Homo sapiens: one gene and its partners. The protein of the gene in region 2 interacts with the protein of the main gene of each other region in a pairwise test. Each region holds a gene or a part of one and is shown on either strand. Other genes may lie near its edges.

Region 1 (3,747 bases), on a different chromosome or scaffold from region 2:
GTCCCAGCTACTCAGGAAGCTGAGGGAGGAGAATCACTTGAATCCAGGAGGTAGAGGTTGCAGCGAGCCAAGATCATGCCACTGCACTCCAGCCTGGGCGACAGAGTGAGACTCCGTCTCAAAAAAAATAAAGGATTCAAGATAGTCCCTGCAGAATGTGGAGGACAATCTAGGGGCAAAGTTGCAGAACCTCCATCTGAGGAGTCATCTTGGCCAAACCCCTCCCTCTACGTGTACCCCCACGGCCTGCCCACTCACTTCTTTCTCAGAACTCTGGGACAAACTGTTTCCTAATCCAGGCCGCTCTTCAGCCTCGCCCTTCTTTTCCTTCAAATGCCGCCATCTCCTACCGAGTATGGCCTGGGCCAATCCCATCCATGTCCTACCGAGTATGGCCTGGGCCAATCCCACCCACGTCCGTCCCCATTCACGTCCTTTACAAACAGCCCACCACACCCTATATCTAGATGCCCGGTCCTGGCCTAGTGAGGTGACTCACACCTATAATCCCAGCACTTTGGGAAGCCAAGGCAGGAGGATTCTCTGAGCCCAAGAGTTCAGACCAGCCTGGGCAACAAAGCAAGACCCCGTCTCTACATAAATTAAAATAGTTGGGTGCGGTGGTGTATGCCTGTAGCTCCAGCTAAGCAGGAGGCTGAGGCAAGAGGATAGCTTGAGCCCAGGAGTTCAAGGCTGCAGTGGGCTACGATTGCGCCACTGCGGTCCAGCCTCGGTGACAGAGCAAGACACCGTCATTAAAAAAATAAAATTAAAAAAAAAACAAACATGGCCAGTCCGCTCCATTCTGGACCTCGCCTCCGTCACAAGCCCCGCCCTCTGCAGCCTAGATCACCTCCCCCTCCAATCAGCAGAGAGCTTTCTCCCGATTGGTTGTCCCCTTCTCCAATCCTGAACTTCCCCCTCTTCTGCGGGGATCCACACTCCCGCTCTCTGCACAGTGGTGGCCTCTGCAATCGGGATGGACCCATCTTGTACCCAACTCCACAGACCCTAAGCTCTCCCTGAAGCCCCTCTCCCCACGGCAGGCGCGATTCTACGAGGCTGCCTCGCGCAACCCTACCACCCCCTCCAATCCCTACGGCGCCCCGTTACCCGGGGTCCTCGTCCTCCCCGCAAGCCCATCCCCTCTGCGGGCACCTGCGCTCTTGCAGTCTGCGCTTCCGTGCGCTCACACTGAAGCCCTTCTCGGAGCCGAGCCCGGGCCCCGTTTCCTGCAGAAGCCCCCGCCCCATCAAGGTCCCACGCGAGCCCGGGACCCCCGTCCCATCCGCACCGCCCCCACCCCTAGCCACCGACCTGTCTCGTGCGCTTTTCGGAGGAGCCAGGCGTCCGCACGATCCAGCTCGGACACTGGGGGCGGCGAAGCCCCGGCGCGGGGACCGTGGCCGGGGGCGAAGGACCCCCGGGCGCCCCCGCTCCGGGGCCGCTGAGGCGGCAGTAGCGACCTCCGGAAGCGAAGACGGGCAAGGCGAGCGGCCCGAGCCCACCACCAGCCGCCTCCCATGATTCGCACTACGGCCGCCGCGCGCCGTACCGCCCCACCGGCCTCCGGTAGGTTGCAACCCATGTCACTCAGGATGAATGGCTTACCCATTGGCTATGCGCTCGCCACTCAGGTCCGGCGTGAACTGTCCATTGGTCGGAATGGCAGTGATTCCCTCCTCTGTCATCTAGGCCGGTAGTGCCCGTCCCTCCTTGATTTTGTACCGGACTACGAATCCCAGCGATCATTGCGCTCGGGGAAAGCCGATATTCAGAAGTCGCAGGCGAGATGTCTGCTGGGAATTGTAGTTTTAATTCTATCTTTTTTAACGGAGTACATGCCGAGCACCTATTGTAGTTGTTTCTTGGTTGTTTCTCTTTCTTTCTTTCTCTTTCTTTCTTTCTTTCTTTTTCTTTCTTTCTCTTTCTTTCTTTCCTTCTTTCTTTCTTTCTCTCTTTCTTTTTCCCTCCCTCCCTCCCTTCCCTCCCCTCCTTCCTTCCTTCCCTCCTTCCTTTTTTTTCCCCGCCCCGAGACCGAGTCTTGCTCTGTCGCCCAGGCTGGAGTGCAGTGGTGCGATCTCGGCTCACTGCAACCTCCACCTCCCGGGTTCAAGCGATTCTCCTGCGTCAGCCTCCTGAGTAGCTGGGATTATAGGCATGCGCCACCACGCCCAGCTAATTTTTGTATCTTTAGTAGAGACAGGGTTTCACCATGTTGGCCAGGCTGGTCTCGAACTCCTGACCTCAAGTGATCCAACCGCCTCGGCCTCCAAAAGTGCTGGGATTACAGGCGTGAGCCACCGTGCCCGGCCAGGTCTGTCTCTTTAAGACAGATTTGTTTTCTTTGCCCTAACCCATTCCGGGATTCAGCTTTGCCTTCTCTCATCAGCATAAACCTTTTCACTAGCCAGGAATGTGAAAAATGTGTCTGGAATATTTTCAATTTGCACTTAATCCCATTTAAAGCTTCACATTCATTGCAAGCCTGCAGGCTATGCAGTGCAGTCCATTTGAACTCCCTCCTCAAGTGTAACCCCCTTGCTAGCTCCCCTACTTTTCCTCTTCATAAAATCCAAGCCCGGGCCAGGCACGGTGGCTCACATCTGTAATCCCACCACTTTGGGAGTCTGAGGCGGGCAGATCACGAGATCAGGAGTTCGAGACCAGCCTGACCAACATGGTGAAACCCCATCTCTACTAAAAATACAAAAATTAGGCATGGTGGCAGGCACCTGTAATCCCAGCTACTTGTGAGGCTGAGGCAGGAGAATCGTTTCATGCGCGTCCATGTGAAGAGACCACCAAACAGGCTTTGTGTGAGCAAGATGGCTGTTTATTTCACCTGGCTGCAGGCAGGCTGAGTCCGAAAAGAGAGTCAGCAAAGGGTGGTGGATTATCATTAGTTCTTAGAGGTTTTGGGATAGGCGGTGAAGTTAAGAGCAATGTTTTGCGGGCAGGGGTGGATCTCACACAGTACATTCTCAAGGGTGGGGAGAATTACAAAGAACCTTCTTAAGGGTGGGGGAGATTACAAAGTACATTGATCAGTTAGGTGGGGCAGGAACAAATCACAATGGTGGAATGTCATCAGTTAAGGCTATTTTTACTTCTTTTGTGGATCTTCAGTTACTTCAGGCCATCTGGATGTATACGTGCAAGTCACAGGTGATGCGATGGCTTGGCTTGGGCTCAGAGGCCTGACATTTCTGCCTTCTTTTATTAATAAGAAAAATAAAACAAAATAGTGTTGAAGTCTTGGGGGGTGGTATGGAGAGAGAATGGGCGATGTTTCTCGGGGCTGCTTCAAGCAGGATTAGGGGCGGCGTGCGAACCTAAAGTGGGAGAGATTAAGCTGAAGGAAGATTTTGTGGTAAGGGGTGATATTGTGGGGTTGTTAGAAGAAACATTTGTTGTGTAGAAGTATTGGTGATGGCCTGGGTACAGTTTTGTATGAATTGAAAAACTAAATGGAATAAGAGAAGGAGAAAAACAGGTATAAAAGGTCTAAGAATTGGGAGGACCTAGGACATCTGATTAGAGAGTGCCTAAGGAGATTCAGCATAGTCCTGCCAGCAAAGATTATTTGTTTACTTCAGGAGTTAAGAGTGGCAGTTTGGGGATAGCATGAGGAGATATCAGCTGTGATGGCTTGGAGAAACAGTGTAAACCAGCAGTGTAAACAAGAGCAGGGCACGTATGAGTAGTTGAGAACGGAGAATAGGAGTATGACTAGACAGAAAATAG
Region 2 (3,747 bases):
GGGCTTGTATACTTGGTTTCATCTTTTTTTTTTTTTTTTTTGAGACAGAATCTTGCTCTGTCGCCCAGGCTGGAGTGCAGTGGTGCGATCTTGGCTCACTGCAACCTCCGCCTCCCGGGTTCAAGCGATTCTCCTGCCTCAGCCTCCCGAGTAACTGGGATTAGCGCCACCAGGCCCGGCTAATTTTTGTATTTTTGTAGAGACGGGGTTTCACCATGTTGGCCAGGCTGGTCTCAAACTCCTGACCTCGTGATCCACCCGCCTCGGCTTCCCAAAGTGCTGGGATTACAGGCGTGAGCCACCGTGCCCGGCCAGGTTTCATCATCCTTGAATTTCCTAATTCCTCACCATGTTTGTCGCTTTAGTCATTCCTATTAAGAATTCCCTTCTGGGTACAGGTGCTAGCTAAACTTTCCCTCAGCTTCTCCCCGAACCCTTTGGAAGGAGCAGGAAGGAGGTGAACATCCAACGATCTAAGCATTTGACTCTCCTGCCCTTGTGCAGGCTCTCACCTGACAGCAACCCAATACTCAGGTATAGGTGGGTCAAGGAAGTAGCAAAAGAGGCGAGCAGCATCCCCAGCGCAGCCAAGATGCCTCCAGTCATCACCACGGGCCTGGGCCCGAACTTCGTGCTCAGGGCACTGCCTACCGGGCCTGAGGAAGTGGAAGGGGCGCTGCGAGAAGATCTCAGGGGTCTCCCCCCCAGCATCTCCCGCCCCTCGCCCTTCCACTTCCCAGTCGCCGCATTCCCTCTCCCTTCCGAGGGTCGCAGTCCGCCAGATCCAGGCGCCGCACTCACTCCCAAACTGCTGCACCGCGATTCCTATGGAGGCGATCCAGGAGACGCGCGCTGCCTGCTCCTCAAACGCCGCCACAAACTCCACGAAGAAGACCCCAAAGGAGCGGAGCACCCCAAACACAAGCGCCGACTGGAAGAACGCTGAGAGCACCACCACCCATCCCCAGCCCCCGTCGGGGGGCTCTGTCCTGCGCGCCATCTAAGCGGTAACAGGGCTGCTGCCACCCAGAGCCTCTGCAGGAGCCGGGTTCTGGACGCCGCACCTCTGCACACCCACCCCCGCTGCCGGGTGGCTCGGGGCCGAGAGGGGTTGGAGAGGCAGGTAGAGAGGAAGGGCCCGACGAGGCGGCGAGAGGCCCCTGCACCTTTTCCCAAGGCGGGGCGATATAGGACTGAAGACCTGGCCCGCGCTGGCCGGGCCAGAGTCTCCCGGGGGCGTGGTTCCGCGAGCTCGGAGCTGAGCTAGTTCAAGCCGGGGCCGGATCGGTCCCGGTTCGGTGTTCGGCTGGGAGCCAGAGGGTGGAACTGAGTTTGGGCCCCACCCCTGGAGCGCGCCAGTTTCCGTGTAGATGATCTATTTTATCACTGGGGTGTCCGGGCCGGGCCACCCTGGAGCTCGCCAATGAGGACGCGGGGCTCCCGGGCAGGGGCGGAACGAGAAGGGCAGGGCGGGATTTAGGCATTGTTGGGGACCAGCAGTGAATGGGCGCATGCGTAAGGAGGGGCGTTAGGAGGCTGACTAGGTAGGGCCCCACGTGACGCGGGGACTGCCAGGAAGCTTCCGTCTCCTCTTCACCTAGCGGGCCAAGTCATCCCCGTTTCAGCACCCAGAGCCACACGGAAGGGTTAGTGGTGGGTAAACTGGGTCTGGAGAGGAGAGGACTCTCTTGCTTTAATGAGGGGTCCAGGAATTGCAAGGCCCTGTTGGGGGTAGGGGAGGGGTTAGGAGATGAGACTCAAACGAAGTGTTTGGCGCAGCGCCTGAAGCCACTAACACGCAGCCCTAGGCACGCAGACCTAGAAGCCTGGATCCCTGAGAAGTTCAACGGCTAAGGGAAGAGAGAAGGGGAATGAGTTGGACTCCTGGCGTTCATTTCTGTAGTGGGAACTCGTTCCTGTCACTTCTGTTCCCACTAACAGGAAACCTACAGGTCACAGAGACCAAAAATAACTGAGGAGAGGAAGGGCGGCTGTAAGCTCACACAGGGCCCCACCAACACCACCTACCTCTTCCTCACTGGGGCTGGAACCTTTTCCTCTGCCCTCTAGTAACAACCACTTCCTAACCACCTTTTTTGATCTGATGGTGGGGTAGACTAAAGAGACAAACTATGACCCTGGCCACTGGAGCAGTCAGCCCCCTCTTACCCAAGTAGTCCTCAGGCCCCTAGCAAACACTCCCCAGTCCTTCCCAGTCTCCATAACACCAATGGCTTGGATTTCCTGTTCCTTCATTATAAGCCATACTTCCCAGGACCCTGACCTTGAAACCGTGGACTCAATGTTCACTCCCAGATTACTGGGGAAAGCAGCAAACAAGAAGTGGAGGCAGGGAGGGAGGTGTGTAGTCTTAAAAGACATATTGAGCCTTAAATAATTTTATATGTGGGAAATAAAAGTAATCATCAATAATACACATATATACTTTCTAAGAGTCAAAATGTCGGCTGGTGGGGAATATGCCAAAGATACAGAAATTGCTGTGGCTGTATTACATAGTGATTAAGAACTCGGGTCTTTAGAATCAGATCACAGTTCCAGTCTTTTATTTATTTATTTATTTATTTATTTATTTATTTATTTATTTATTTTGAGATGGAGTCTTGCTCTGTGGCCCAGGCTGGAGTGCAGTGGCATGATCTTGGCTCACTGCAACCTCCACCTCCCGGGTTCAAGTGATTCTCCTGCCTCAGTCTCCTGAGTTTCTGGGATTACAGGCTCCCACCACAACGCCCAGTTAATTTTGGTATTTTTAGTAGAGACGAGGTCTCACCATGTTGGCCACGCTGGTCTCGAACTCCTGACCTCAAGTGATCCACCAGCCTTGGCCTCCCAAAGTTCTGGGATTACAGGCGTGAGCCACCGTGCCTGGCCCAGTTCCAATCTTGACTTTATTACTTAACTCGATCAAGATGCTGAATCTCTCAGTTGGTTTCCCCATCTGTAAACTGGGGATAATAGTACCTACTATTAAGCGTTGCCCAAGGGGTTCAGTTAGAAAATCCATGCACTAAAAATGCTTAGTTTATGTGCTGACATGCAGCAGGAGCCAAGTAATATTAGCTTAGCTGGTCTTATTGGTGTTATTTTCAACAGGGGATAAGCTGCTGTAGTGGGAAGTGAAGGAAGGTTTTAGTTTAGTGTTTTTTTTTTTGTTTTTTGTTTTTTGTTTTGAGATGGAGTTTTGCTCTTGTCTCCCAGGCTGGAGTGCAATGGCATGATCTCGGCTCACTGCGACCTCCACCTCCTGGGTTCAAGTGATTCTCCTGCCTCAGTCTCCCGAATAGGTGGGACTACAGGTGTTTGCCACTATGCCTGGCTAAATTTTTTGTATTTTTAGTAGAGACAGGGTTTCACCATTTTGGTCAGGCTGGTCTCGAACTCCTGACCTCAGGTGATCTGCCTGCCTGGGCCTCCCAAAGTGCTGGGATTATAGGCGTGAGCCACCATGCCCTGCCTAGTTTTTGTTTTTTGATTAAAAAAAAAAAAAATCTAATCCAGGTCATGGGTTTAAAAAGATTGAGAAACGACCACTGCGATGGTTTGAATGTTACCTCCAAAAACTCATATTGAAACTTAATCCCCAACTTGGCGGTACTGAGAGGTGGAAACTTTAAAAGGTGATTGGATGGGATTAATGGATTAATTAATCCCCATGAATTAGCCCACCATAATGGATTAATAGGTTAACAGATTAACCCCATCATAAAGGACTAAAAGGTTAAT
Region 3 (3,747 bases), on a different chromosome or scaffold from region 2:
AGAGGAGGTGTGGATCCCCCGATCCCTGCTGCTTTATTCCTGGGATCTGTGCCAGAACCATCTATAGGAAGACCTGATCCAACCTCTCCCCCATTTTACAGACAAAGAAACTGAGGCTCAGGGAGGAGAGCCAGTGGTAGGGGCCAAGCTCACAGGGGAAGCAGAGCCAGGACTAGAAACCAAGTCTCGCTGCAGTCAATGCAAGCCCTCTGCCCTTATACCCTTGTCTTGTCTGCTGAATTATGCTCTCTCTGCCTGGGACAGGGGCCTTCCTCAGAGCGCAGGGTGACCAGGATGTGCTGCTTAATGGAGAACAGGGAGACCTCAGCCCCCATGCCTCCTTGACTCCGGCTCCTGTCCCTTGGCCTGGTTCCTCACCATCAATCTAGTGGCCTGGGACAGTTTAGGTGGAAGTCCAAGATGCTCAAGTCCTCTAAGGACTTGACTCTTGCCTGGCCAAGTTTATCTTGGTCCTGGGAGGTAGAGGTCAGCAGGTAAAGAGTCTCAAGTGCTTGATCACAGGGTGTGTGTGTGTGTGTGGCGTGTGAACAGGCATGCACACGCAACTGGTGGTTCACTGAAGAGGGGGCTCCCACTAGACTCCCCAAACAATCCACATTTCATCTGGGCAGGCCCTTCTGAACCCAAATATTTTCTCCCATTCTAAGTCCGTGCCCCTCCCCCATCAAGGCCTTAGGGCTGAGCCTGAGAGAGGGAGGGAGGGAAGAAGAGAGAGAAGCCACGTTTCCTTAGGGAGGGAGGGGAAGAGTGAGAAAGAGGAGAAAGACAAGCTCACAGTCGGACCTAGTCAAGAAGACATAGGGAGAGGGAGAAAGTCAGCCAGACTCCAGGAACAGAGGGACAGAGCAGAGATCTAGAGGCAGATGGAGAGAAATGGCTCCCTCCTCCTGAGCCATCACCCTATGTTGCCCTGACCGCCTCTTCCCAGCCCCCAGCCTCAGGTCCCTCCCTGGGGTGGGGGGTCTCTGGGCCTGATTCCCTGGGGCTGCCAGGGTAGCACCCTGAAATTTCTGGGCCTGGCTTCCCCGAGGGGTCGGGTCTCAGGCCCTCTGAACGTTCCCCGGTGCGCCCCCCAGCGGAGATCCAGCCTATGAGCCACCGAAGCCCCAAGGGAGGCGCAGGAAAGGGCGCTGCCACTTTGCGCCCAGTCTGGTCCTGGAACCTGGGGTGGGTTGGGGACGGCTAGAAGACGTGGGTGGAGGGCGGGATTGGTGTCTCTTGAGCTCAGATCCGAGGATCGGACGGACCCGATACCTCGATGGCCCCTTCCCCCTAGAAGGTGGAGGCCAGTGTATTCAAAGATTGAGCCCCCAGGAGGGGCGCTTAGCTCCAAACACATGTCGCTCCTGGAGACCCTGCGCTGAACCCTCTCCCCGGCTCCTGCCCAGTGATGTGTAGTCGGGTCCTTCTAGGGGCCCAGGCGCGCCGCGAGGACGGGTGCCGAGGGGTGGAACGGGAACGGAGACCCTTCATCTTACCGCATTGTTGAGGAAGTCCGACTCGTTCAGATCCCCCAAGTCCAGGAAGCTGGATCCGGGGAACAGCCTGTCGGCCGGGAAGGGTTCCAAGACGGCGTCCATCGCAGCCGGCTCCCGGGACCCCCTTCCACTGGGCTTCCCTCACTCCAGGGCGGCGGCGCGCCCAGTCCAGAGCTCCTGCCTGAGCGCTGGCAAACGGGCGGGGGGCAGGTCCGGGGCGAAGCCCCGGGGGAGGGGCGGACGGAGGCGGCGCGGCCCCGGGTGGGGGGCGCGGGGCGCGCGGGGGCCTTAGGGCAGCGGCTAGGAGCGGGATGGGCTCAGGGGCCCCGGGCGCACCGTGGGCATTCAGCCGACTCCACCTCCTCCTGCTCCTCCTGGGGCACAGCTGGCTTCCATGGGGAGCCCGGGGTTGGGGCTGAGGGCTTCAGGAGCCCCCCGGACAGGGTGGGAGCCGGGGCGGGGGAGCTAAGTGCTCCCCCGAGACTGGGTGGCTGCCGGCCTCTCCTCTGTCTCTGCGTCTCCCTCCGCACGTCTTCTGTCACTTTCCTCTCTGTGAAACCGGGAACCCCTGGCTGGCTAGCCCAGCTGGCCAAGGCGCCACGCCCCCACATCAATATTCACAATAATTTAATATTAATGAGAAGAGGGCGTGGCTCGAGGAATCCTCTCTCCTTTTTTAAAGAGACATCTGCAACTTCGTCTTAGTAATCTCTCTTCTCTGAATGCTCAAGGTGGGGGCTTAAAGCAACAATAGTCCTGGAACCGATAACAGTGTTCCTGGAACATTGGCATTTTAAGGCTTCACCAACCACTGTCCCGTAAATTGATGAGGGAGCTATTTCCATCCTTCCAGCCTTATACTAAAGCCTGCACGAAACCCAGTCAGGGAATTCCATTTCACAGTCCCCTCAACAGATCTCCCCTCAACGGGGGAGATTTTCAGCTTTTTAAAAATTTTATTTATTATTATTACTATTTTTTTGACACGGAGTTTCGCTCTTTTTGCCCGGGCTGGGGTGCAATGGTGTGTTCTCGGCTCACTGCAACCTCCGCCTCCCAGTTTCAAACGATTCTCCTGCCTCAGCCTCCTGAGCACCTGGAATTACAGGCGCGCCCCACCACGCCCAGCTAATTTTTGTATTTTTAGTAGGGACGGGGTTTCACCATGTTGGCCAGGCTCCTCTGGAACTCCTAACCTCAGGTGATCCGGCCTCCTTGGCCTCCCAAAGTGCTGGGATTACAGGTGTGAGCCACCATGCCCAGCCGATTTTCAGCTTGTAACTCTCATTTCTCATCTCACCTGTTTCTTCTTCCAGGAAGCCTTCCCTGAACCCCCAGGCTGGAGCAGTTACCAACGGTATACACCCACAGGGCATCATGTGCTCACCTCCACTGTTTCCAGTCTAATGTGGTATTGTCCTTATTTGCTCACATTGTTTGTATCTGTGACCCCACTGAGCTGTGAGGCTCCTCAGGGCAAGGACAGTCCCCAGCTTCCCTCTGTGTGAAAGGGCTGGGTGAACAGCCAGAGATAGGAGAGTCCCCCTCTTCTCCTCGATAGTCAAGTCCCTCCCTACCCCCCAATGGTTCTGAAGAGCAGGAAGTTGGAAAACAGTGGTTCTGGAATCTGAATGAGCCAAGGTGCTGGCTGGCTGCACACTCCACAGTCACCAGACACTCCCAGGGCCCCGGGATCCATTACCTAAGTGGCTTGCTCCTGCGTACAAACTTAATCTCTTGAAAGGGCTGATAGCAATCGCCAAGCACCTGAACAAATGGAGGTGGTTCAGAAAGGCACTCCCTCAGAGGGCTGGGCACACTGTTTCCTGACCAGAAGTTATTAATAAGATTAAGCATGTCCTTTCTGTCTGGGACGTTTAATTAGCTCAGGAACCAAAGGCCTTTAAGAGGTAGAGATGTCATTGCAGCTAAGCCATGGATGTCACCAAAATTGCTCTCAGCACCAGGTGGGAGAAGGGTTCATACCAAGGCTGAGACAGCAGTTGTTTGCTTCCCTGGCAGGCAGGCAGTCACGTGGCTTTTCCCCACCTTATGATCTAGTTGACATAGTTCTGGAGAGTGAAGTTCTGACCTTCCAGGCTGTCACATGACTGTTAGCTCCCAGGCCTCCTGTAGAATTTGCTCCTGAGAAAGTAGGATTATAACCCATGCTCTGGGGACCAGTTCACCAGCCATGCAACTCCGAGAAGTAAGGCTGGGCCAAAAAGAAATCAATTCACTTTCACAA

The links.
Region 1: the proteins of SLC16A13 (region 2) and TMEM160 interact in binary tests that used the Homo sapiens proteins (3 or more experiments, as listed by UniProt).
Region 3: the proteins of SLC16A13 (region 2) and CREB3L1 interact in binary tests that used the Homo sapiens proteins (3 or more experiments, as listed by UniProt).

Annotation. Positions count from the first base shown.
Region 1 is NC_000019.10:47,047,090-47,050,836, forward strand, and holds the start of TMEM160 (transmembrane protein 160 precursor), read right to left. Parts: upstream 1,536-3,747; 5' UTR 1,526-1,535; coding exon 1,318-1,525; intron 1-1,317.
Region 2 is NC_000017.11:7,033,636-7,037,382, reverse strand, and holds the start of SLC16A13 (monocarboxylate transporter 13), read right to left. Parts: upstream 1,369-3,747; 5' UTR 1,001-1,368; coding exon 802-1,000; intron 657-801; coding exon 513-656; intron 1-512.
Region 3 is NC_000011.10:46,275,966-46,279,712, reverse strand, and holds the start of CREB3L1 (cyclic AMP-responsive element-binding protein 3-like protein 1), read right to left. Parts: upstream 2,052-3,747; 5' UTR 1,602-2,051; coding exon 1,500-1,601; intron 1-1,499.